7 linked regions of the Homo sapiens genome follow. The protein of the gene in region 7 purifies or fractionates together with the protein of the main gene of each other region. This does not show direct contact. Each region holds a gene or a part of one and is shown on either strand. Other genes may lie near its edges.

Region 1 (3,500 bases), on a different chromosome or scaffold from region 7:
AGAAAGTTTTTATGATAGTTTTAAGGGTAAGATGTATATATAAAGTAACTCTTTGCTGTAAATTCCAAGAGATTAAGATTAAAGCTTTGTTTTTAAATGACATCCACATTTTTGGATGTCTACTTTATTATTTTGTCTTGACTTTGTTTTTGTCATAAGTCATAGATTAACTAGCAAAACTTTTGGCTACTTATGTTAAACTCTGTTTTATTCTCCATATTGATTTAGTTTTATAATGTTGGCATTGTATGGTGGGGATAGCACAATTATCTTACCAAAAATTGTTTATAAAATCACAGTGATGTAAAATACGTGTATCATTTTTCTCCCTTAGCCAAACAAAATGATGAGACTGGACAGTTCTCCAGTATCAAGTCCAAGAAAGCATTCAGCAGAACTAATTGCTATGGAGAAAAGACGGTTACAAAAGCTAGAATATGAATATGCCCTGAAAATTCAAAAATTAAAAGAAGCCCGTGCCCTTAAAGCAAAGGAACAACAAAATATCTCTCCAGTTGTGGAAGAGGAACCCGAATTTTCTTTACCTCAACCCTCACTTCATGATCTGACACAAGATAAATTAACCCTGGACACTGAAGAAAATGATGTTGATGATGAAATTTTGTCTGGTTCAAGCAGAGAGCGAAGAAGATCTTTTTTAGAATCCAATTATTTTACTAAACCTAACCTTAAGCACACTGATACTGCTAACAAAGAATGCATAAACAAACTTAATAAAAATACTGTAGAAAAACCAGAACTTTTTCTAGGGTTAAAAATTGGTGAATTGCAAAAATTGTATTCAAAAGCTGACAGCCTAAAACAGCTGATTTTAAAAACCACCACAGGCATTACAGAGAAGGTTTTGCATGGTCAGGTAACTGAACATTTCATATTTTCTTTAAAATCTGGAATTCACCCAGCCTTATTTGCCTTACAGAATTATTATTTTCTTTTGCAGGAGATTTCTGTAGATGTGGATTTTGTCACAGCACAAAGTAAAACAATGGAAGTGAAGCCATGTCCTTTTAGACCCTACCATAGTCCTCTTCTAGTTTTTAAGTCCTACAGGTATAAAAGAAAGATTCAATAAGCTTGAATTTCAGGATTTCTGTTTGGTTTTTAATATTTTATCTTGAATATTTGATGATAATGAAAAAGCAATTGAATCATTGCTATTGATAACCAGACTTACCCTTTTAAGGAACATAAAAATTAAGTGTCCTGCCGTTGGGCTCAAACCACACTCTTGGATTTATCAGTTCGTATCAAATTCCAGTTTCTGGCTATTGGTAGAAGTGTGGAGAATTTTGGATTTCTGTTTGTTAGGAATTTTAGGAAAAATAATTGGAATCTTAGAGGTTTTTTTTAATTTTTGATTTTTAATTTTACTGTTATTCAGTCTAAGAAGTGCATTGGCCAGCCTTCATAAAATTTATTTAGACATTTTCATATGATTAACTTTGTGGGTCCCCCATTTAGACTTTTAAAAGTTGTGAGAATGTTAAAGGGTTGCATGTTTTTATCTTAAAATTGTAAAGCACCTTCCAGGTAATATAGACTTTTTCCAGATTTTCTTGTCTTGGCTGGTAATGTGTGTAAGAAATACCGGTATTATATAGTATTTTATTATGTGGTGAGAAACTACTTTTAGAATACAAGGTTTTTTTTCTGTTTAAACTATTTTATGTTCTTGGTATAAAAGCAACTTGTTTCTATCCCTTGATATTCTAGGTCTTTTCTCGAATTAATTTTGGCATTAATTTAATTAGATAAATAGCTCATAAATAGTAAGCATGGAAATTTTAACTTGAGAAAGAAAAACTAAAGTTTTCTTAGTTTTCTGAGGAATGTTTGTTGGGCATAATATACCTGTTCACTCTCTTCACCTTAGATTTAGTCCATATTATCGAACCAAGGAAAAACTTCCCCTGAGCTCAGTATCATACAGTAATATGATTGAACCGGATCAGTGTTTCTGCCGTTTTGATTTAACAGGAACATGTAATGATGATGATTGTCAATGGTGAGTAGTTTTTGTGAACATTTTGTAATTTGAAAAATGGTCTTGTTTGCTTAACTTTGATATGTACATGATTATCTTTTCTGTGTTTTTTTTTATCTTAGGCAGCATATACAAGACTATACACTTAGCCGAAAACAGTTATTCCAGGACATTCTGTCATATAATCTGTCTTTGATTGGTTGTGCAGAGACAAGTACTAATGAAGAAATTACTGCTTCAGCAGGTTTTTAAAGACTTCCTATTCTCTCCCAAATGAAAATTGAATTTAGGCAACTTAAAAATTCTATATTAGTTGTTGACATTGTAAAATACTTACTATAATTCAGTGTATTTACCCATAATACTTTATCTAGATTTGCTGTATCCAGTATAATTACGGTAAAAATTTACTTCCTCTGTTACACTAGCCACATTTCAAGTACCCAATGGCCACATGTGGCAAGTGCATGCCAGTAGGACAGCACAGATTTAAGACATTTCCAACATTTCAGAAAGTTCTTTGGACAGAGCTCATTTAAATATTTAGTTCCATTTATTTAAAAGAAAATATTAAGCTATTTGTATAGAAACTTTACTATTGATTTTAACATAGGAGCCTATTTTTACTTATTGTTTTCAAAAAATAGAGGAAGGCTGGAAATTACGATGGCTGTTGTTTCCAATTCTATAATGAAATAAGACTTGATACACTTGTGAGCAAATATTATTAAGCTTTTTCTCAGATTTGGTGCCAAGTAATAAACCTCAAGCTACAAATCTTTTGGAAGTAAAGAAAATAATAATTACTAAATTTGGTGTTATCACAGCCCAGAGTGATTGTAATGTCACTGAATCTATTTTATCGCTCCCAATTTGGGACTTTAACTTAATTACTTAGTTCATTTTAGGAACTACTTTTTTTTTTTTTTAATCCCAAATGGGGTATATGATGTGGTAGGATTTGCCATAGTAGTTAAGATAATACAGGCTTTGCCCTTTCAAATGCCATAGGTGTTATTGACTAGTACCATATAATCGCCTTTAATTCTTAAACTAGTTCACGTCATACATTTTAATTATCCTAGTCTCTGTAATTGATATTTATCATGAAGATTGCATTGCTCTTATTTCAGAAAAATATGTTGAGAAACTTTTTGGAGTAAACAAAGATCGAATGTCAATGGACCAGATGGCTGTTCTCCTTGTTAGCAATATCAATGAAAGTAAAGGTCATAGTAAGTACATATATAAGTGTGTGTGTGTGTGTGTGTGTGTGTGTGTGTGTGTACTGTATCTCTTTCTGAAAAGGACTTTTTAGTTTCTGTATGACAGAAATTTTGTTGGTATTATGTTCTTAATGTAATACATATCATTCCAGGCTGGGTGCGCTGGCTCACGCCTGTAATCCCAGCACTTTGGGAGGCTGAGGTGGGCTGATCACTTGAGGTTAGGAGTTCGAGACCAGCCTGGCCAACATGGTGAAACCCCGTCTCTA
Region 2 (3,500 bases), on a different chromosome or scaffold from region 7:
TGTATTTTAAATTATCTCAAAAGTGCTTTGTTGTAAAAATAAATTTGTGACTAAACAAAGACTTTCATATTAAATGGGTTCAATTGAACTCATTTCTTATTTTCCAAGTGTCAATGTGAAAAGAAAATAAATGCTAGCACTACTGACTAGTCAGTATATCTCCACTTTAAATGCTAAATACTTTCTTGAAATAAAATCGCACCTCCCGGCCAGGCATGATGGATAATGCCTGTAATTCCAGCACTTTCAGAGGCCAAAGCGGGAGGATTGCTTGAAGCCAGGAATTTGAGCCCAGCCTGGGCAACATAGCAAGCAAGATCCCATCTCTACAAAAAGTTAAAAAAATAAATTACACCTGCCTTTTGTTTTGAAGACTTAAAGAATCTGCTCAAATGATTTATTTTCTGAGTCTCTTCACATTAACTTTTATATGATTTTTAAAAAATTATTACCTGCTTATATTTTTTGAGTATCTGTTTCATATAAAGAGATGCTGCATGTTCACTGTGAAGTATTGCTGAATTAAATTGAAAATGTCAGATAAAACTGATACATGATGTAGTTATAAAAATGCTGTTATGAAGAAAAAAGGAATGCTTTTTTCCTCGGTGGCCTTTGATAAAAATATGAATGATTGACTCTCAGAGTTGGAGGATAAACTAATCATCTTCTAGCACAGCCCTGTTGTGTTGCAGGAGAGGAATCAGGCTAAAGTCTGCTGGTATTTCAGTGACAGATTAAAACTTTCTAACAGTGGCCTAGTGCTTTCTCCATTGTAATGTACTGAAAGGAAGTTGTTCATGGATCAGAAATGTGGGAGGCCCTTCCTTGCCCAAGGCAAGTCGCTGTAGATGGTTAAACTGATACCAAGGATAGGTAAGGGAAATTCCAAATTCCATTGGAAGATGGCCTTTTACTGACACTGCAGACATGTAGATAACAATAGTTTAATGTCCTCTGAAAAGGTAAAAATTCCATAAATCCTTGCAAACAATTTTTAGCAATATTGTTTATTGCTACCACAGCCAAGAATGGGTATTTCAAAGCCAGGGTTTTTTTTATTTTGTTTTGTTTTGTTTTTTTTTTTTTTTTTTTGGCTACACTTTTTTGGGGGGGACCTTTTAATTTGGGAAGAAAATGCTGAGTATACTTTTCTTTCACAACCATTGCAAACCCAGGTAGCCCTGGAGTTTTCTTTTTTTCTCATCATCATTGTTTTGTTTTTTTTATGGTTCAAGACTTTTGCAATACATGAATTAAAAATAAGCAGTTCTTTAAAGCATAGCGCTCTAAAAACTATTCTTAGTTTATACCCTCAAAAGTTGGGTCTTTCATGAAACACAGTGGTTTGAATATGAACACCAGTAGCATTCTCGTTCGTTGTTAGGGTAAGAGAGTTTTGTAGAATGATCTCCAAAAGAAGCAGTCCTCAAAAGGCATTTACCAGTGATATCTTTTAATATTCATGTTTTTATTTAATGATGTAAGATAGAATTAATAAACTACTAAGGAAATAAGCCAATGTGGTTATTGTACTCAATTTCGTTTTTCTTTTAGAAATGTGTATTGACTTATTAAAGCCACTGACAGAAATGTTAATCATGACTTAAGTTCTAATTTAAAAAACTATTTTCCTCTTTCCTAAATACTATATTCTAAATTGGAATATGGCAAAATCCCAATATATAATTCTATACCTAGTAAAGATTGTAAATAACTAAAACAAAATGATAAGAGCTGTGAACTGAAATTGTATTGCTTACAGAAATCATGAACCGAATTTTCTTCTCTTTTTAAAGTGAGCATAAAGACTTAAGTGTATTGTTACCAGAGATATATTTAGATAGAATACATCATTTTGGCAGGTAATCTTCTAGAACCTTTCATGTACTGTTTCCATCAAGGGAGGGAAAGAAATAGAAAATATAATTTTATCTATATTTTCCTTAAAATATATCAATCTGTGCACACTCTTTCAGTTTTTTAATTACTCATGTAATATATGACTACATTTTGCTTGTGTGCTTTTTGAAAACCATCTTCAGTCCCAATATCCTCTGTAGAAGTAATAGTTTTAACTCTCCTAGATCTTCTTTTAGAGTGTTTTTATGAGTGTTTAATGTAGGAATGTGTATATATTATCTACAGCCACAGGAAATGTATAGTTACGATTTTTACATACGTGTATGTATATTATTGTACAACTTGCTATTTCTACTTGGGAGTTTTTTATTTTGGTACATTCACATTTACCTAATCTCTTGTGCACTGTCCAACAGTACTTTGCCTATAATAGACACTTAAGGAAGTTTTCCTTCTTTTTATTCCTTTATAATTACAAACAATGCTGAAAGGAACATCATCCTACATGAGCCCTTTTTGTACATATAAGGCTCTCTCTGTGGTATATGCTTAGGATTTGAATTTCAGGCCAGAGTATAACCATTTTTAATTTGAAGAGATACTTCCATTTGGGTTCCAGAATGGCTGTATCAAGTTACAGTTCCCCTGAGCAAGATATGAGCATCTGCTTCCCCATGTAATTAATGACACTTGCTATTGGATTTTTGTAATTTAATTACTCTGAAAAAATTATTTTGGTTTTAAATCAGAAATTTCTCACTAGTGAAGATGGACATATTTTTGTATGTTTATTTTAGAACATATAAACATTTGTTAATTTTCTTTTTCCTCTCATTTTTCTATTGAATGATTTGTCCTTTTATCTCATGGATTTGTTAGGAGTTCTCTTGTATTTTCTGTATTTTATGTCTGTTGCCAATGTTTTCTCCTACTTAGCCATTTGGCTTTAATTTTACATGGTGTCTGTTTAAATAAATGTTTTATATTTGTATACAATCAAATTGATTAATTTTCATGACTTATTTCAGGATATAAAGCAAATTATTTTCTAAGACATTTACAGTGTATGTTTTCCTATGTTTACATGTGCTCATTTCACGTCATGTATTTTCCTCTACGACATGTTTCTGTGTGAGTAGTTAACATGTAGATCTTTAGAATTGATTTTTCTGAAGAGTGAAACAGCGCTGCTTCCAATATCTGTTCAAAATTCATTTATTGAAAAGTCCACTCATATGTCTGATTTGAAATGCTGTTTCATTATGTGTTAAATTCTTTCACTGAGCTCTTCCATATTCCTAGTAAATGATGCATTACTTTGGTATGTTCTCAGATTTGGGTAAAGCCTTCCTCATGTTCTATAAAAATTGGTTAACTGCTGGTGAGCACATCTCTTGAAGTTTTGATATGGGTTGCACAACATTTATAGGACTGATTTGGAGAGACCGACAATACCGAGTGCAGTCCTCCCTTGGTATCTAGTTCCAGGACCCCTGTGGATACCAAAATCCAAGCAATGCCCTGCAGATCATGGGACCTATGCATATGAAAAGTCGGTCCTTGTATTTGAGGGTTTTGCATCCCTCAAATACCATATGTTTTATTTGTGTTTGGTTGAAAAAAGTTTGCATATAAGT
Region 3 (3,500 bases), on a different chromosome or scaffold from region 7:
GGCTTCTCTCTGATCACAGATTAAGTCCACTTCGCCCAGGAGCCCTTCCTCCTCCTCCTGTCCCCATGCCAGCTGCCTGGATTAGTCCCTGCACGGTACTGACACTGTCGTCCCTGCGGTCACTTGTCTAATCGGTCGCCCGTAAATCCCGAGAGGACAGAGCTGATTTTCTTTCTGTCTTCAGCCCTAGCGTCAGGCCTGGCCCAGAGCCCCCACTACAGGCTTTTTTGTTGTTTTTTTGAGACAGGGTCTTGCTCTGTCACCCAGGCTGCTGTAGTGCAGTAGTGTGATCATGGCTCACTGCAGCCTCCATCTCCCAGGCTCAAGCCATCTTTAATTTTTGGTAGAGATGAGGTCTTGCTATATTGCCCAGGCTGGTCTAGAACTCCTGAGCTCAAGCTTCCTGCCTGCCTTGGCCTCCAAAAGTGTGGGGATTACAGGCATGAGCCACCGTGCCCAGCCCACCCCCCCTCTAAACACACGGAGCCTCCTCCAGACGTGCGGAGCCTCCTCCAAACATACCGAGGCCTGGGGACATTTCTGTTGACCCAGAACTGAGGTAGTGGCCAGACTGCAATTTGAATTCAGGTCTTTCTGCTGCAAAGTATATGCTTTTTTTTAAAAAAAATTATTATTATTAGGGTTTTTTTTTGTTTGTTTTTTGTTTTTTTAGAATGAGTCTCGCTCTGTCACCCAGGTTGGAGTGCATGGTGCTGTCATGGCTCACTGCAGCCTCAACCTCCCAGGCTCAAGCGATCCTCCTGCCTCAGCCTTCTAAGTAGCTGAGAGCACAAGTGTGTGCCACCGTGCCTGGCTAATTTGTTTTTTTAAACTGCTCCATTGAGATATGATTTGCATAACATACAGTTCACCCATTTAAACCACACACTTCAGGCTGGGTGGCGGCTCACACCTGTCATCCCAGCACTTTGGGAGGCCGAGGTGGGCGGATGACTTGAGGTCAGGAGTTCGAGACCAGCCTGACCAACATCCAGAAACCCTGTCTCTACTAAAAATACAAAATTATCCGGGCGTGGTGGCGCATGCCTGTAATTTCAACTACTCGGGAGACTGAGGCAGGAGAATCACTTGAACCCGGGAGGCGGAGGTGGCGGTGAGCCGAGATCACACCATTGCACTCCAGCCTGGGCAACAGCAGCGAAACTCTGTCTCAAACAAACAAACAAAAAAAAACCCACACACTTCAGTGGTTTTTAATAAATTTGCAGCATTGCTCAGCTGTTACCATTCTTTCATTTTAGAGCATTTTCATAACCCCAGAGAGAAATTTTATACCCTTAAGTGGTCACGCTCCATCTCCCCTGTCCCCAGCCCTGGCACCCACGCGTCCCCTCCTGTCTCTGTGGATGGGCCTGTCCTGGATATTTCGTAGAAATGGCACCACATGGCCGGGTGCAGTGGCTCATGCCTGTAATCCCTGCACATTGGGAGGCCGAGGCAGATGGATCATGAGGTCAGGAGTTCAAGACCAGCCTGGCCAACATAGTGAAACCCCATCTCTACTAAAAATACAAAAATTACCTGGGCGTGGTGGTGGGTACCTGTAATCCCAGCTACTCGGGAGGCCGAGGCAGGAGAATCGCTTGAACCCAGGAGTTGAAGGTTGCAGTGAGCCGAGACTGCACCACTGCACTCCAGCTTGGGCAACAGAGTGACACTTCGTCTCAAAAAAAAACAAATGGCATCACACACTGTGTGACTTTTGTGTCTGGCTTCTTTCTCTGCATGTGACATCATCGGGCTGCATCCACACCGCAGCCTGTTCCAGAGCCTCATTCCTTTTCATGGCTGAGTCGTGTTCCACTGGGCAGAGGCCACATCTTGTCAGTCCATTCACTCGTGGATGGACCTTTTGTCAATTGTGAATCGCGCTGCTGTGAGTGCACGTGTGCAGATTCCTGTGTGGATGTGTGTTCATGTCTCCTGGCTGGATCCTGGCACTGGAGTCTTGGGGGTCATGGGATGACTCCATTTTAAAGCTTTTTTTTTTTTCTTTTTTTTTCTTTTTTGAGATGGAGCCTCACTCTGTCGCCCAGGCTGGAGTGCAGTGGTACCATTTCAACTCGCTGCAACCTCCACCTCCCGGGTTCAAGCTATTCCCCTACCTCAGCCTCCCAAGTAGTTGGAATTACAGGCACGCGCCACCACGCCTGGCTAATTTTTGTATTTTTAGTAGAGATGGGGTTTCACCTTGTTGGCCAGGCTGGTCTCGGACTCCTGACCTCAAGTGATCTGCCTGCCTCGGCCTCCCAAAGGGCTGGGATTACAGGCTTGGCCACCACACCTGGCCTAAAGCTTATGCTTTTCTAGCCACTGACACTTCCTCTACTCAACCTAAAGCACAGATGTGCTCAGGAAATTGTAAGTAGTTTATGCATTTAAATGTGACCATCGGCAGCTGCAGCTCTCTCTGGAATGGAATTCCGTCAGCCTCTGTTTCGTCGTACCCAGCTCTGTTGGGTCCTCCTTGGCTTGGAGGGCTTTGAGTTGAATCCTTATTTTTCTTCGGTCTGTAAGATCTCCAAGGACACAGGCAACAGCACCTCCTTTCTCCATCCCAGGGCCCAGCCTGGAGGGGACGGTGGCGTGTGCCTCTAGTCCCAGCTACTTGGGAGGCTGAGGCAGGAGAGAGTTCACGGGGGGATTCAGCAGACAGGCCTGGGAGAGGGGTCCGGGCAACACCTGCCAGTTGTACTGGGGCCTGTTCTCACACCTGTCTCCCTGGTCTCCCCTGTTTTAGTTCAGAGGAATATCCTTGACTTCCCCCAGCATGTTTCCCCCTCCAAGGACATCCGGACAGCCAGCACAGAGGCCGACAAGAAGCTCTCTGAGTTCGACGTGGAGATGAGCATGAGGGAGGACGTGTACCAGAGGATCGTGTGGCTCCAGGTGAGGGGGCCCTGCGGGGAGTGCAAATAGCCTCCCAAGTAACTAGGATTACAGGCGCCCGCCACCACACCCGGCTAATTTTTGTATTTTTAGTAGAGACGGGGTTTCAACGTGTTGGTCAGGCTAGTCTCGAACTCCTGACCTCAAGTGATCCGCCCACCTCGGCCTCCCACAGTGCTGGGATGACAGGTGTGAGCCACTGTGCCCGGCCCATTTTTTGTATTTTTAGTAGGCACAGGGTTTTGCCATGTTGGTCAGGCTGTTCTCAAACTCCTGACCTCAGGTGATCCGCCCGCCTTGGCCTCCCAAAGTGCTGGGATCACAGGCCTGAGCCACCACGCCCGGCCACACATGTGCACTTTCATTTCCTTTCCTGGCCATCCTAGTGTGACCCAAACACCCCATCCCCACATGGCGTGAGCTGGCAGGGCCTGGCGGCATGGCTGCGTGGGCTCCTGCTCCCCCGGATGCTCCTCGCAGTATGCAGTGGGGCCTTTGCTGTTGATGTCACATGATCAGGAGAGACCCAGAGACCCTCCTGCTGCTGTTCATCCTCTTAGGCGAGGACCCCTGGGAATGTGCTGATGTGT
Region 4 (3,270 bases), on a different chromosome or scaffold from region 7:
AAATGGAAAAGAGGGATGAGGAAGGGGCCTTACTGGCCCAACTAGAAACAGAAACTAAGAACCCATGACTGTATTCTCTCCCTTGGACACCCCTGTGTTTATTGCAACAGATAGGGGGGAAAGAGACCCAGAAGGTGAGTTGCTGAAGTATTTGTTAAAGATTTGAAGAACTAGCTGGGCACAGTGGGTCACGCCTGTAATCCCAGCACTTTGGGAGGCTGAGGCAGGCGGATCACGAGGTCAGGAGTTTGAGACAAGCCTGGCCAACATGGTGAAACCCTGTCTCTACTAAAAATAGAAAAACTAGCCAGGCGCAGTGGCGGGCGCTTGTAATCCCAGGTACTCCGGAGACTGAGGCAGGAGAATTGCTTGAACCTGGCAGGCGGAGGTTACAGTGAGCTGAGATCGCACCACTGCACTCCAGCCTGGGTAACAGGGCAAGACTCCCTAAGATTTGAAGAACTTGCAAGGGTAATTTTCAGTATGTCATGTTTTGTTCTAGTTGTAGCCATTAGAACCCCACCTCAAAATAGGATTGATTTATTTTTATTTATATTTCTTTTGAGATAGTCTTGCTCTGGTTGAGGCTGGAGTGCAGTGGCGCCATCTTGGCTCACTGCAGCTTCCCTAGCTCAAGCCATCCTCCCACCTCAGCCTCCTGAGTAGCTGGGGAATACAGGTGCATTCCACTGTGACTGCTGATTTTTCTTTAACTTTTTTGTAGAGGTGGGGTCTCGCTATGTTGCTTAGGTTTGTCTTGGACTCATGGGCTCAAGTGATCCTCCCACCTCAGCCTCCCAGAGTGCTGGGATTACAGGTGTGAGTCACTGGGCCCAGCCGAGAAATAAATTTGAACAGAGCATTCTGTAAATGGAACTTATTTGTGGCACCCTTGTTCTGTGGTATGCTAGTTTGAAAAATTCTAGCCTACAACAGTTGATATGCAGGCCCTGCTGCTCTCTGCCCGTTTTTTGAGACGGAGTCTCACTCTCACCCAGGTTGGAGTGCAGTGGCACGATCTTGGCTACTGCAACCTCTGTCTCCCAGGTTCAAGCGATTCTCCTGCCTCAGCCTCCCTAGTAGCTGAGATTACAGGTGAGTGCCACCATGCCCGGCTAATTTTTGTATCTTTGGTAAAGACGGGGTTTCGCCATGTTGGCCAGGCTGGTCTGGGACTCCTGACCTCAGGTGATCCACCGCGCCTGGCCTGTTCTGTGACTTTCGACAAAGCAAACAATTTTTGGTTTCTTGGAATTTCATTTCTCCCCATTTAAAAGAGAACGTCCCCCTCCATCGCTTTCATGCAAGACATGGACCTACCCTTAGCGTGGAAATTGAGCTTGGAAGTAAGGTAGTGTGTAAAGACTAGATTGATTAAAATTCTGGCCTTGATCACATCCTCTTACGATTCTTCTGGGTTGGGGGAGGGTATGCTGTTTTAATTCTACCAGAATGAGAAGAATTTTTGCTGCTGGAATCAACATAAAACTTGGATGCAGCGTGCGGCAGACTTTGGAAAGATCTTTCACTATAGCTTGCTTGGATAAAACTGGTTTTCCCATATTCCTATCCCTGCATTTCTTTCATCTGCCGTGAGATTGTCCTTGTTAGTCAAGTCACAGCATAGCTGATGGGGTAATAGTAGGAGAACTTAAGCAGGCTTCCTGGCGTAGAGCAGTTGGGCCTTTCTGACAAGCCCATTTTCAGTTTCTGTGGGTCAATCTCTGCTTTTGGAAGTGTTTTTCAAGTGTGCCTGTGATTTTAGAGCAGATTTTGTGAGCAGAGGGTCTTCAGTTAGTGGACATCAGTTAGTGGACTTTCTTCAGTAGTGTTTTAGGGCTGGCATGTAGTTGAGTGATGGCAGCCCTTGGCGAGCTTTTACTTGGGAGGATCATTGTTGCCATGTCCCAGTAGCCACGAGATGAGATAATTGCAGGCCCTTTGCTCTTTCTGCCTTCCATCATTCTGTCAGATTTGTTTGGAAAAATTTGTCTGGGGCTGTAGGACATTGTTTCTTGGAAATATGTAACGGTACTTCATTGGTGGGAGCAGCGTTCTTAGTTCAGTGCCTGGACAGCGTGTTCCTTAGATATTCTAATAATTTGTAGAGCTTCAGGATTTGAGACCCTATGATTTTATTTCAGCCTTATTATGTAAGAAAGGGTTGGCTGTAGTCTCTCTTGTCGAGACTTGATCTCTAGGCTATGTAAAATCTGATCATCCTGGACAGCTCTCCAGCCAACAGGGAGCACGCCAGTGGCCTGACACTGCCATGTATTGCCTTGTTCCATCTCTTTGCATGCCTTTGCTTTTTCTCCTAGGCAGGCGTAGTCTTACTTAGGTGTATTTTTTGAAAAGTATGTCAAGCATTGTGCACAGAATAAGTACCCATCTGAATGCTGGGTTGGTTGGTTTGGAGGACTGTTTATTTATGAATGTCATCTTGTGTTACTCAGTTTTTCTGTTATTGGTAAAGTGAAGAATGTTTTTGTTGTTGTTGTTATTTTATAGTGTGGGGTGATCAGCCCCAGATTTGACGTGCAACTCAAAGACCTGGAAAAATGGCAGAATAATCTGCTTCCATCCCGCCAGTTTGGGTAAGTTGGCCTTTCCTTAATTAAAAGAAGTTAATGCTAAGAATTTCTGTGGTGCAGTTTGACTTAAGGGTTTTTTTCTTTTTTTCTGTTTAAAACAAAGCAGTGGTAATTTGTCTACTCTTAACCATTTTGACCTAATAGCTCAAGTGTTATCCATATTTCTTTTCTCTCTCTTTAAAAAGAGACAGGGTTGGCCAGGCACAGTGGCTCACGCCTGTGATCCTAGCATTTTGGGAGGCTGAGGCAGGCGGATCACCTGAGGTTGGGAGTTCGAGACCACCCTGACCAACATGGAGAACCCCGTGTCTACCTAAAATACAAAATTAGCCAGGCCTGGTGGCACACACCTGTGATCCCAGCTACTTGAGAGGCTGAGGCAGGAAAATAGCTTGAACCCGGGAGAGAGGTTGCGGTGAGCTGAGATTGTGCCATTGCACTCCAGCCTGGGCAACGAGTGAAACTCTGTCTCGAGAAAAAAGAGAGAGAGACAGGGTTTCACTTTGTTGCCCAGGCTGGAGTGCAGTGGCTGTTCACAGGTGCGGTCATAACACGCTACAGCCTTGGCTTCTTGGCCTCGAGCAGTCCTCCCCGCTCAGCCTCTTGTGGATTTGGGAATACAGGCGCCTGCCACCGTGCCTGGCTATTTGCCACATTTCATGTGTTGAGCTTCAGG
Region 5 (2,993 bases), on a different chromosome or scaffold from region 7:
TAATCATCTGAAGAAATTCTTTGATTTCAGTGACTTACTGATCTGTACCTGTGCACATATCATTTTATGCTTCTCCTTTTTTCCCCGCAACTTGAACTGTGACTCTTTCAGATATTTCTTAAATCTGTATGAGTCATTTTTTAAGCTTAGGGATTTGATATGTATTAATGTCCCCTTTGTCTTCTGTAGATTTTAGCATTTTATTACCTCTTAAGAAACTCTGGGCCCAGACTTTCAGTCATATTTCTTATTCCTATGGTACAGTTCTCACTTAAAGGCTTAATTATTAGTAGGGTTAAATATATACAGGTTATCTCTAAAAGTACTTAAATTTTTAAATAAGGGCTTATGTGATACAAGATACGGAAACAAAAGTTTTTGGATTTTTATGCAGTAGTTTGCAGGAAAGCAAATACATAGTAGATCGTATGCCACTTAGGTATGTTCAGGTCATGCCAGTTTATTCTTGTTGGGCCACACACACATGTATGTGTGTGTAAAAGGAATTTTTAGTATTGAAGCAAACAAATTGTCAGTTTAATAATTTTCTCTTACATAGCACAAGATGGCAGATACCACCTACTGTACAACAATCTAATAATCCCTACCTTAGTTCCCCTGAGTTATAGAAGATGCTAAAGATTTAGTTGTAAAGGGAAGTAACATGATTTTTTTTTTCTAAAAAGCTGTTTTAAGCTAACTATTATTTTGCTACTGGAAAATTATATTTTAAAACTTACAGATATTTAAAGTATGCTAGAAAATTTGAACCTGATAACAACTGAACCTTTTGTCTTGAATAAATTTCTCAAATAGAACTGTGCAAACCCTAGCACTTTATGTGTTGCTGCCTCCCCATACCTAGGTATGCTCTGTAATAAGCTCCCATTTAATGGAGAGATGTGTGGAGGCACTGAGAAGTTAATGAAGAAAAATCAACCCTAAGAATTCCTTATTGTCACATAGTGTCTTTTAAAAAATAACTGTAGAGACTGTGTTAATTCGAGTGCCTTTCTTACTTTTTTGGGAGCAAGATTATATTTAATGTTTAAGAAAACAGGATGGAAGTTTTATCAAACAGTTGATTGTGGCCCATTGTTTTATTTATTCCCATCGCTAGGCATGGCCCCGTAGGGTATTTTATCCTTCAGTGAGAGACTGATATAAGCAGGCAGGATGCTTTGATTATTCCATTAGTTATCATTTTAAGCACCCTACCAAGATTTAGTTCTTTCTTTCTGGCAACTAACGTTTTGGGGGTTGGAGGCATCCCATTTAGAGGATGGTGTGTGCACAAATAGATTAGCCTGAAACCTGCGTCCAAAGGGAAACAGTGGCACTCTGCCCTAAAATAAAGGCCAGAACGTTGTCCTAAATGAATCCTTTGCCTTACTTTAGGACCTTCCTTCCCTCTCAAATTCAGGCATAATGTAATATAGTTGAAAGGGGGAAAACAGTACTTGCTTTCTCTCAGGTATTGGAGGAAAAGAAGTAAATGCGTAGATGAAATTTTAAATGTATCATTTTATCTGTTTGTATATGGAGAAGGGAGGGATAGGAATTCCATATTTCAAGATAGCAAATATAATTTCATAGAAATATATAGCTAAAGATTCCAAAGTGCTTTTACAGAGAACTGTTGAATAATATATTCCTAAAGGGCAGCAATATGCCATGTTCATGGTGAAGACAGAAAACCAATGAATCAGTTGTGGATCTCAGGTGGGAGAGGAAACCTCAGGCTCCCAACTTTGACTTCTCTACTCTCACCAGGCCATGTTAACACTGTAAAACCAAACTCTTTGCTAAGAACAATACAGGGCAGTAGTTTAGTCTGCTGATGAAACCTTGTGCTTCCAAGAATATTAGCTATATATAATTTGTGCTTTCTGGATGATTCTATTGTCCAGAAAGCTAACCCTGACGTTACTTTTATTAGTCTGTTGTTATTCCTCAGGGTGTAGAAGATTTAGTAAATTCAGGACAAATTTTATATTCAGTGGCAAAAAGAAAAGGCAAAAATATGCTAAATATATTATTAGCTCTTAAATTTTAGTATAGATCGTATTTTTTATAAACTATTACCAGTACAGTAGCTAGTAGATATTCTGTGACTGCCTCATTGTTTATCTTGCTGCTTTGGTCCCTATGGCTCTAGTATGAACATTCTCGTGTCTTCTGTGGAAATGATTTCTGTGTTATAGTTCCATCTTTGGTAGAGGTGGGGATGATTGTATTTTGTTTTAGTTGACATCATTCTCAACTTTTAGAAATACTGTTGAGGAAAATGATTACCGTTGGTTTTCAAATTGACAACTATTTTGCTTCCAAAGACTTCAGTTTCCCTTTGTTTTATGTGTAGACCTCATATATGTTCAACACATTGCATACTGCCTTGCACATTGTAGGAATTCAACAAGTCAAGAGTTGATAAAAGCTAGAAAGATAAAACTAGCTTAGCTATCATATCATCATTGTCCATATTCTTAGCTTTGGGAAAAATATACCATTTTGCATAAAATACATAATCAGTTTCAAATGCATAAGGCAAAGATATACAGTTGCACAACATTGCAAGTGAAATTTACAAAGGATTTTTATTTTTGTGTATGCTAAAAGTGCTCCTACTTAAAGCAGTTTTCTTTATTAGACCAACACCTTCCAGCAAAGTTAGAAACCAAACACAAGTGCTCATTTGCCCAAATTAACCAGATAGTTATGTAAACTGTTCATATTAAGTCTTTAGTGGTTTACAAACAATAACATTCTGGCTTTTCTTCCATACCTTTTAGGAATCAGCCTTAATTTTAAGTATAGCAGTCACTTTCCTCAAGGTACTATGCAGCATACTTTAGATTGCTTATTTATCATTATAAGGTGATAGGTAATAAATTTGAGGTTTACTTGTCATATAATTTCATATGGCAGATATTGATTCAAGGAGCATTCTATTAGAAAAAGTTGATAAATTATCCTCCCTTACAAATATCATC
Region 6 (3,500 bases), on a different chromosome or scaffold from region 7:
GACATTAGTCTTGGGTGTTTGTTTATTTGTTTATTTTGCCTGCATTTTTAAGGGCCAGGTAAAAATACAAGAAATTAGGATTTTTTTTTTAAAGAAGGGAATTTGCTGGGCTCGATGGCTCACACCTGTAATCTCAGCACTTTGGGAGGCTGAGGTGGGCAGATCACAAGGTCAGGATTTCGAGACAGCCTGGCCAACATGGTGAAACCCCGTCTCTCCTAAAAAAATACAAAAATTAGCTGGGCATGGTGGCACGCACCTGTAAAAGGCAGGAGAATTGCTTGAACTTGGGAGGCAGAGGTTGCGTTGAGCTGAGATTGAGCCACTGCACTCCAGCTTGGGCGAGACAGCAAGACTCTGTCTCAAAAGGATTTTTGTGATACTCTTGAAATAAATAGACACTCTAGAATGTGAGCCTTTTGTTGGAAATGTTAGTAATACAAACTTCATTTGAGACTATATGTTCAGCAACTATCACAGATGTAGTGAGCACCCAGTAACCTTCCTCTCCCTCACTCCAGTTATATTTGGAATTGAAATGAGATGTAATGGAGCTGCTTAAATATTCTAGACGACACCTTCTCTTTAGTTATTCTCCTATATATGAACGGAGTTGTATTCTAAAAGCTAGTTTGTGAGTTAGCCATCTAATTTCACTATAGAAATAATGTACATAGGTTCTTATCTTTGCTCTCAAAGTTGTAATAATTTGTGGAGGCTACTTTTTTTTTAAGCAAATTCAAAATGTTACATAATTTTACCCCTCTATACTTCAGTGTGCATCCTCAAAAGACAGGGAAATTTTCTTATATAACTGTATTGCTATTATCATAGATGACAGAATTATCAATAATTTGTTGGTGTCATCTAGTACTTTGTCCATGTTCAGATTTCTTTCTCACAGAACTATCTTTTTCCACTTGGTTTATTTGAATCAAGATCCAAACAAGGTCTGTGTATTTCATTTGGTTGTTACATCTCTTAAATCTCTTCTTCCTCTGTCTTTCTTCCCCCACTTTTTTTTTTTTGCTTCATGCTGTTGACTTGTTATGGAAACCTGGTCAGTTATCCTGTAGAGTACTGTATTTCTCACTCCATATTTGTTTGCTTTCTTGTGGTGTTAATTTGTTCCTCTATCCTTTGGATTTCCTATAAAATGGAAGTTAGCTCTGTAGGCTTAATTGTTCAGATTCAGCTTTTTTGGGAGTTGGGAATGCTTTGCAGATGGTGCTGTGTATGTTATATTGCCTCACATCAGGAGGTTCATAATATGTGCATTTCACCTACTTTTAGTGATCTGTTGGTGGTCATTGACTAAACCTACAATTTCATTAGGCGTTGCAAAGTCGTGATTCTTTTTTAAGTTGTCATTTCTTCTACATTTGTTAGCTAGAATTTGAAGTCTAGTTCTGTTACTTGGGAACCTGATAATCAAAATAAGCTTGTTGTGGGAAAGTATTGTCAGAGCAACAATATTTTTGATGCTAGGAATGCATCTTAGTGCAATAGTCTTTTTTTTTTTTTTAAAAAAAAAAGAAAGGATGTGGGCCTTGCTCTGTTGCCCAGGCTGGAGTGCAGTAGTGTAATCATAACTTACTGCAGCCTCGAACTCCTAGACTCAAGTGATTCTCTCACCTCAGCCTCCTGAGTAGCTAGGACTACTGGTGTATGCCATCACGCCCAGCTAATTAAAAATATTTTTTTTTTTTTTAGAGATGGGTCTGTCTGTGTTTCCCAGGTTGATCTTGAACTCCTGGGCTCAAGTGATCCTCCTGTCAGTCTCCCAAAGTGTTGGAATTACAGATGTGAGCCATGGTGCCTGGCTGTGATTGTCTTTTTAATGTTTCAACTTGGTTTGGCTGTAGCCCCCAGATATTTAGTCAAACATGAATGTAGGTGTTGCTGTGAAAGTATTTTGAAGCTATGATTAAAATCCATAATCAATTAAGTAAGGGAGATTATTCTAGATCATCTGGGTGGGCCTGATTCAATCAGTTGAAAGGCTTTAGAAGCAGAGCTGAGGTTTTCCTTCCAAAAAAGAAGAAATTCCACTTGTAGACAGCAGTTTCAGCTAGTAGCCAAGAGTTCCAGCATGAGTTCCTCCCTTCATAGCCTGCCCTATGTAAACCAGTTTCTTGCCATAACTCTCTTAATATATATCTCCTACTGGTTCTGCTTCTCTAGTTGAAACCTGACTGGTGCAAAGGGTAACTCCTCTGATGCTTCTGTTCTCCAGCTAAATGGGATGGGAAGCGGTAGTAAGGGTCAGAGAACTTGCATTGTTTAGGGTAGCCATATAATTTTTTGTTCAAACTGGGACTTCTGAGAAAGAAAGGAGCTGAGTTGATGGCAAGCTGAAACAACAGGCGTAAGGTGGAACTGTCTTGGGCAAATTGAGAGTTATAGTCACCTTGTGTGTCAGCCACTGGGGATACAACATGAATATGACACAGCCCCTCAAGGAGCATGTAGTCAAAGGAGAAGTCAAGTAAATAAAAATACATTAAGAGATAGTGTTTTAAGTGACATGACAGCTTATAGTTGTTGTATTTGTCCAGACAGAGAGCATAGAAGGAGAGCATGCAGAGAAGTCTTCACTGGCCGAACTGGAACCTATTTTTTACCTCCAAAGATAAGCAGCGTTTGAAAAAAGTGGAGTTGGAAGGGCATTTCAGGCTTAGAGAATCACACAGGTGAAAGTTGAGAGTGAGAGAGCACGGCACATTTGGAAAACTGCCATCATGGCCACAGCTCTAGGATTGGAAGAGGGGAGCCATGAAAGATGAGGTTAGGCAGACAAGCAAGGGCCACATCATAATGGGCCTTGCATCTACGCTGAGGGGTTTGGAACTGTCTTCCATGTGGGAGGGAACTGTTGCAGAATTTTAAACAGAGGAGTACCATGACCAGACTGTTTAAAGCATATTTTGTAATATTCTAAAACTGGGAGTGGAGAAAAATTGATAATAGGGACACTACTCAAAGGCTGTTGAAATAATCTAGTCAGTGAGAATAGAGGAAAGCTTGTGGTGTAAGGAGATTAAGGGAGCCATATTGACAGGACTGATTGGATTTGGGGTGCCTCCCAGGTTTCTGCCTGGATTGGCCACCCTGAAGTGGAGAATTAAAGGAAAGAGGTAGCTGATGACTTCAGTTCTGTATGTGATGCTATGCACTCTTGTTTTCTCCTATCGGTACTTTGGCTTCTGTATAACCAGTGAGAGGAAGGACTGAGTGGCAGTAACATCTGTTAGGGTTACTGGGCAGCATCCCCGCAACCCAGGTACTCAGTCTCAGCCACACCTTACTGAGTGGTGAAGAGAAGCAAGTTTTCTCATGCCCTCTCCGTCTGTCTCTACCTCTGCAGCCAGTGTTTTAGAAGGAGTATGTGGAAGGGCAAGGAGTACCTATAGAACCCCGGAGGAGGGTGAGGAGCAGAGCTGGGTGAGTTCTTTTCTTCTTTGGAAATTTTAACATGTACAACTTTAGGCATGTTCTTT
Region 7 (3,500 bases):
ACCTAAATGAAGGGGACGTATGTAAAGCACCTGACTCAGTGCCTAGCACAGTAAGTACTCAATAAGCAGAAGTACTGAAATGTCCTGACACCATTTAGATGTCTTTCTCTGCTTAAGACAACAGACTCTATAACATCCTTTTAGTAAAAAAGTTTTATCATAGCAAAAAATATGTATTTATAAGGACTGTCAGGAGGGATAGGCTATTTCCAATATCACAGTTTTGTTTGTTGGTGCCTTGAAAAGATAAGATTTATTACTCAAGAGAATGAAATCCACTGATAGGTTCACAGAAACATGTTCCATCTACAGCGTAAACTGGAAGATTTTTCTGGAAGTGGCTGTTGGCCGACGCCAGGTGTTTGAATAAAGACAGCAGCATCTTGGTGTTATACTCAGGAACAGCTTACCCCCTTCCATAGGGTAAAAAGTGGCTTCTTAGGTCTGCAAGAATTCGGGTTGTACTCGGGCTACTTTCCGGAATTCTTTAGTGTGGGTCTTAGGGCACTGCATCTCACACCAGCTGATGGGAACCATCTGGATACCTGGAAGGGAAAAGCTGGTGGTGGAGCCCAGACCCCAAAGATTTGCCTGCGACTCCTCTTTTATGCTGGGTATGAAGCTGAAGTGCCACCAAGCTTCCTACTGAACCTCAACTCATAAAGAAAAAACTTTGTTCATTCTACTGACTTATGAAGTGAGTCCCGTTTCCTTGGATTTATATAAGGAGAATCAGGCTGGGCGTGGTGGCTCACACCTGTAATCCCAGCACTTTGGGAGGCCAAGGCGGGCAGATCATTTGAGGCCAGGAGTTTGAGACCAGCCTGGCCAACATGGCGAAACCCTGTCTCTACTAAAAATACAAAAATTAGCTAGGTGTGGTGGCGTGTGTCTGTAATCCCAGCTACTTGGGTGACAAGAATTGCTTGAACCAAGGAGGTGGAGGCTGTGGTGAGTGGAGATGGCACCACTGCACTCCAGCCTCCTCGACAAAGTGAGACCCTGTCTCAAACAACCACCACCACCAGCACCAAGCAAAAAAGAAAAAAATAATCATTCTAATCTCAGAGGGAAATATCTATAGCCATACTGCTTCCCAGATAAGGGAAACCAGGAAAAACAATGGATTTATCCCAAACCATAGATCCAGGGAAAGTAAGGATGTGGAAACAAGGCCATCTCACCTGACTCACTGTGGGCTACCACCACTCCCAGCTCGTTCTCGGCGGTGGTTAGCAGGTAGTTGGACTGTGCATCACCTAAGGAGATCTAGTCACATAACACCGGTGAAGGAAAATGAGGAGTTAGAAGTCTTCCCCCACCTTAGCCACCTGAGTTGTTTTTCTACCTTTTTTTTTTTCTGAGATGGAGTCTTGCTCCGTTAACCAGGCTGGAGTGCGGTGGCGTGATATCAGTTCACAACCTCTGCCTCACAGGTTCAAGCGGTTCTCCTGCCTCAGCTTCCCGAATAGCTGGGATTACAGGCATGTGCCACCACGCCCAGCTAATTTTTGTATTTTTAGTAGAGACAGGGTTTCACCATGTTGTCCAGGCTGGTCTCGAACTCCTGACCTCAGGTGATCCACCCGCCCTGGCCTCCGAAAGTGCTGGGATTACAGGCATGAGCCACCACACCCGGCCTCCTTCTCTTCTTTTGACAAAGGACCAGAAGTCTGCTGGGAATAAAGGATACCACTTTGGCCAAGACAATGTCACCTGGGCGGAAACTCTTATAAATTTCAACCTGTAAAGAAAGAACAGGAATGTTAAGTGAAAGCTCTAGACTGGGTCTATATGAAACTGTGAACGCTTCTGGTAAAGCCAATCTACTTTCTAATCCTGGAGGGTAGAAATCATCATTACTCATGTCAAGTCAAGAACTTTTAATTGCTTCTACAGTATTATCATACAAATGAAAATTTTTTTTTTTTGAGATGGAGTCTCGCTCTGTCGCCCACACTGGAGTGCAGTGGTGCGATCTCGGCTCACTGCAACCTCTGCCTCCCGGGTTCAAGCGATTCTCCTGCCTCAGCCTCCTGAGTAGCTGGGATTATAGGTGCATGGCACGACACAGGCTAGTTTTTATATTTTTAGTAGAGACGGGGTTTCACCATGTTGGTCAGGCTGGTCTTGAACTCCTGACCTTGTGATCCGCCCACCTTGGCCTCCCAAAGAGCTGGGATTACAGGTGTGATCCACTGCACCCGGCCCTTTTTTCTTTTTTTTTAAGAGGTGGGATCCCACTGTGTCACCCAGGCTGGAGTGCAGTGATGCAATGGTAGCTCACTGCAGCCTTGGACTGCTGGACCAAGGGATCCTCCTGCCTCAGCCTCCCAAGTAGCTAGGACTACAGGTGCGTGCCACCACTTAACCTCAAACTCCTGGGCTCAAGCAATCCTCCAGCCACATCCTCTCAAGCAGCTGGGACTACAGGCATGAGCTACCATGCCTGGCCAATTTTTGAATTTTTAAAATTTTTGTAGAGACAGGGTCTCGCTATGTTGCCAGGGCTGGTCTTGAAGTCCTGGACTCAAGTGATCCTCCCGCCTCAGCCTCCCAAAGTACTGGGATTACGGGTGTGTGTGACCATGCCTGGCCTGAGATAATACTTTTAAGGGATTGAGATACGTAAAGCCATTAAAAAAAAAGAACCAACCAACAACCTTGTCTTTTTCAGTTGCTCGGACATCTTCCTTGCTATAAAAAAAGAATTAACAGAAAGATTAATTACCTGTGAGAAAGAATTTTTTTTTTTTTTTTTTTTGAGACAGAGTCTCCCTCTGTCACCCAGGCTGGAGTACAGTGGCGCAATTTTGCTCACTGCAACCTCCGCCTCCTGGGTTCAAGCAATTCTCGTGCCTCAGCCTCTCAAGCAGCTGGAATTACAGGCACGTCCGCCATGCCCAGCTAGTTTTTTGTATTTTTAGTAGAGATGGGGTTTCACCATGTTGGCCAGGCTGGTCTTGAACTCCTGACCTCAGGTGATCCACCCGCCTCAGCTTCCCAAAGTGCTGGGATTACAGGCATGAGTCACCTTGCCCAGCCTGTGAGAAAGAATTATTCTGTAGATTCCTAGTAAATAAAGAGCTACAAGAACAGACAGAACAAGTTGTAAATGGGACACAGCTGCTACCCAGAGGAGCAGGGTGGAGAAGCATCCTCAGACCACATGGAGAGGCAGTATCAATACCTCTGATTAGATAAAGGCAGATCGGATTTGGCAAGAAAGGATAAGGAATTTCGTTGCCTCAGGGCTTGAACAGAAGCACTATAGCAAGGGCCCCCAACTTCTGGTGGCCTGTGAGGAACCGGGCTGCATAGAAGGAAGTGAGTGGCAGGCAAGCTTCATCTGTATTTACAGCTGCTTCCCAATCGCATACATTACTGCCTGAGCTCCGCCTCCTGTCAGATCGAAGTGGGCATTAGATTCTCATAGAAGTATGAACCCTATTGTGAACTGCACATATGAGGGAGCTAGGCTGCCCACTCCTTATGAGAAT

Evidence for each region.
Region 1: the proteins of EXOSC1 (region 7) and ZFC3H1 purify together in Homo sapiens (affinity purification with mass spectrometry; one large-scale study listed by BioGRID and IntAct). This does not show direct contact.
Region 2: the proteins of EXOSC1 (region 7) and WDR36 purify together in Homo sapiens (affinity purification with mass spectrometry; one large-scale study listed by BioGRID and IntAct). This does not show direct contact.
Region 3: the proteins of EXOSC1 (region 7) and THOP1 purify together in Homo sapiens (affinity purification with mass spectrometry, with the first as the bait; one large-scale study listed by BioGRID). This does not show direct contact.
Region 4: the proteins of EXOSC1 (region 7) and RPS15A purify together in Homo sapiens (affinity purification with mass spectrometry; one large-scale study listed by BioGRID and IntAct). This does not show direct contact.
Region 5: the proteins of EXOSC1 (region 7) and PTAR1 purify together in Homo sapiens (affinity purification with mass spectrometry; 2 studies listed by BioGRID and IntAct, with this or other methods). This does not show direct contact.
Region 6: the proteins of EXOSC1 (region 7) and C1D purify together in Homo sapiens (affinity purification with mass spectrometry; 3 studies listed by BioGRID and IntAct, with this or other methods). This does not show direct contact.

What each region holds. Positions count from the first base shown.
Region 1 is NC_000012.12:71,629,349-71,632,848, reverse strand, and holds part of ZFC3H1 (zinc finger C3H1 domain-containing protein), read left to right. Parts: intron 1-334; coding exon 335-877; intron 878-961; coding exon 962-1,071; intron 1,072-1,894; coding exon 1,895-2,026; intron 2,027-2,127; coding exon 2,128-2,249; intron 2,250-3,138; coding exon 3,139-3,240; intron 3,241-3,500. UniProt on the Homo sapiens protein: Subunit of the trimeric poly(A) tail exosome targeting (PAXT) complex, a complex that directs a subset of long and polyadenylated poly(A) RNAs for exosomal degradation. The RNA exosome is fundamental for the degradation of RNA in eukaryotic nuclei.
Region 2 is NC_000005.10:111,126,848-111,130,347, forward strand, and holds part of WDR36 (WD repeat-containing protein 36), read left to right. Parts: coding exon 1-36; 3' UTR 37-3,500. UniProt on the Homo sapiens protein: Part of the small subunit (SSU) processome, first precursor of the small eukaryotic ribosomal subunit.
Region 3 is NC_000019.10:2,792,003-2,795,502, forward strand, and holds part of THOP1 (thimet oligopeptidase), read left to right. Parts: intron 1-2,761; coding exon 2,762-2,910; intron 2,911-3,500. UniProt on the Homo sapiens protein: Involved in the metabolism of neuropeptides under 20 amino acid residues long. Involved in cytoplasmic peptide degradation. Able to degrade the amyloid-beta precursor protein and generate amyloidogenic fragments.
Region 4 is NC_000016.10:18,784,065-18,787,334, reverse strand, and holds part of RPS15A (small ribosomal subunit protein uS8), read left to right. Parts: intron 1-2,511; coding exon 2,512-2,597; intron 2,598-3,270.
Region 5 is NC_000009.12:69,712,019-69,715,011, reverse strand, and holds part of PTAR1 (protein prenyltransferase alpha subunit repeat-containing protein 1), read left to right. Parts: 3' UTR 1-2,993.
Region 6 is NC_000002.12:68,053,005-68,056,504, reverse strand, and holds part of C1D (nuclear nucleic acid-binding protein C1D), read left to right. Parts: intron 1-3,367; exon of another isoform or gene 3,368-3,444; intron 3,445-3,500. UniProt on the Homo sapiens protein: Plays a role in the recruitment of the RNA exosome complex to pre-rRNA to mediate the 3'-5' end processing of the 5.8S rRNA; this function may include MPHOSPH6.
Region 7 is NC_000010.11:97,436,007-97,439,506, forward strand, and holds part of EXOSC1 (exosome complex component CSL4), read right to left. Parts: intron 2,698-3,500; coding exon 2,664-2,697; coding exon of another isoform or gene 2,657-2,663; intron 1,745-2,656; coding exon 1,694-1,744; intron 1,270-1,693; coding exon 1,185-1,269; intron 546-1,184; coding exon 439-545; 3' UTR 1-438. UniProt on the Homo sapiens protein: Non-catalytic component of the RNA exosome complex which has 3'->5' exoribonuclease activity and participates in a multitude of cellular RNA processing and degradation events.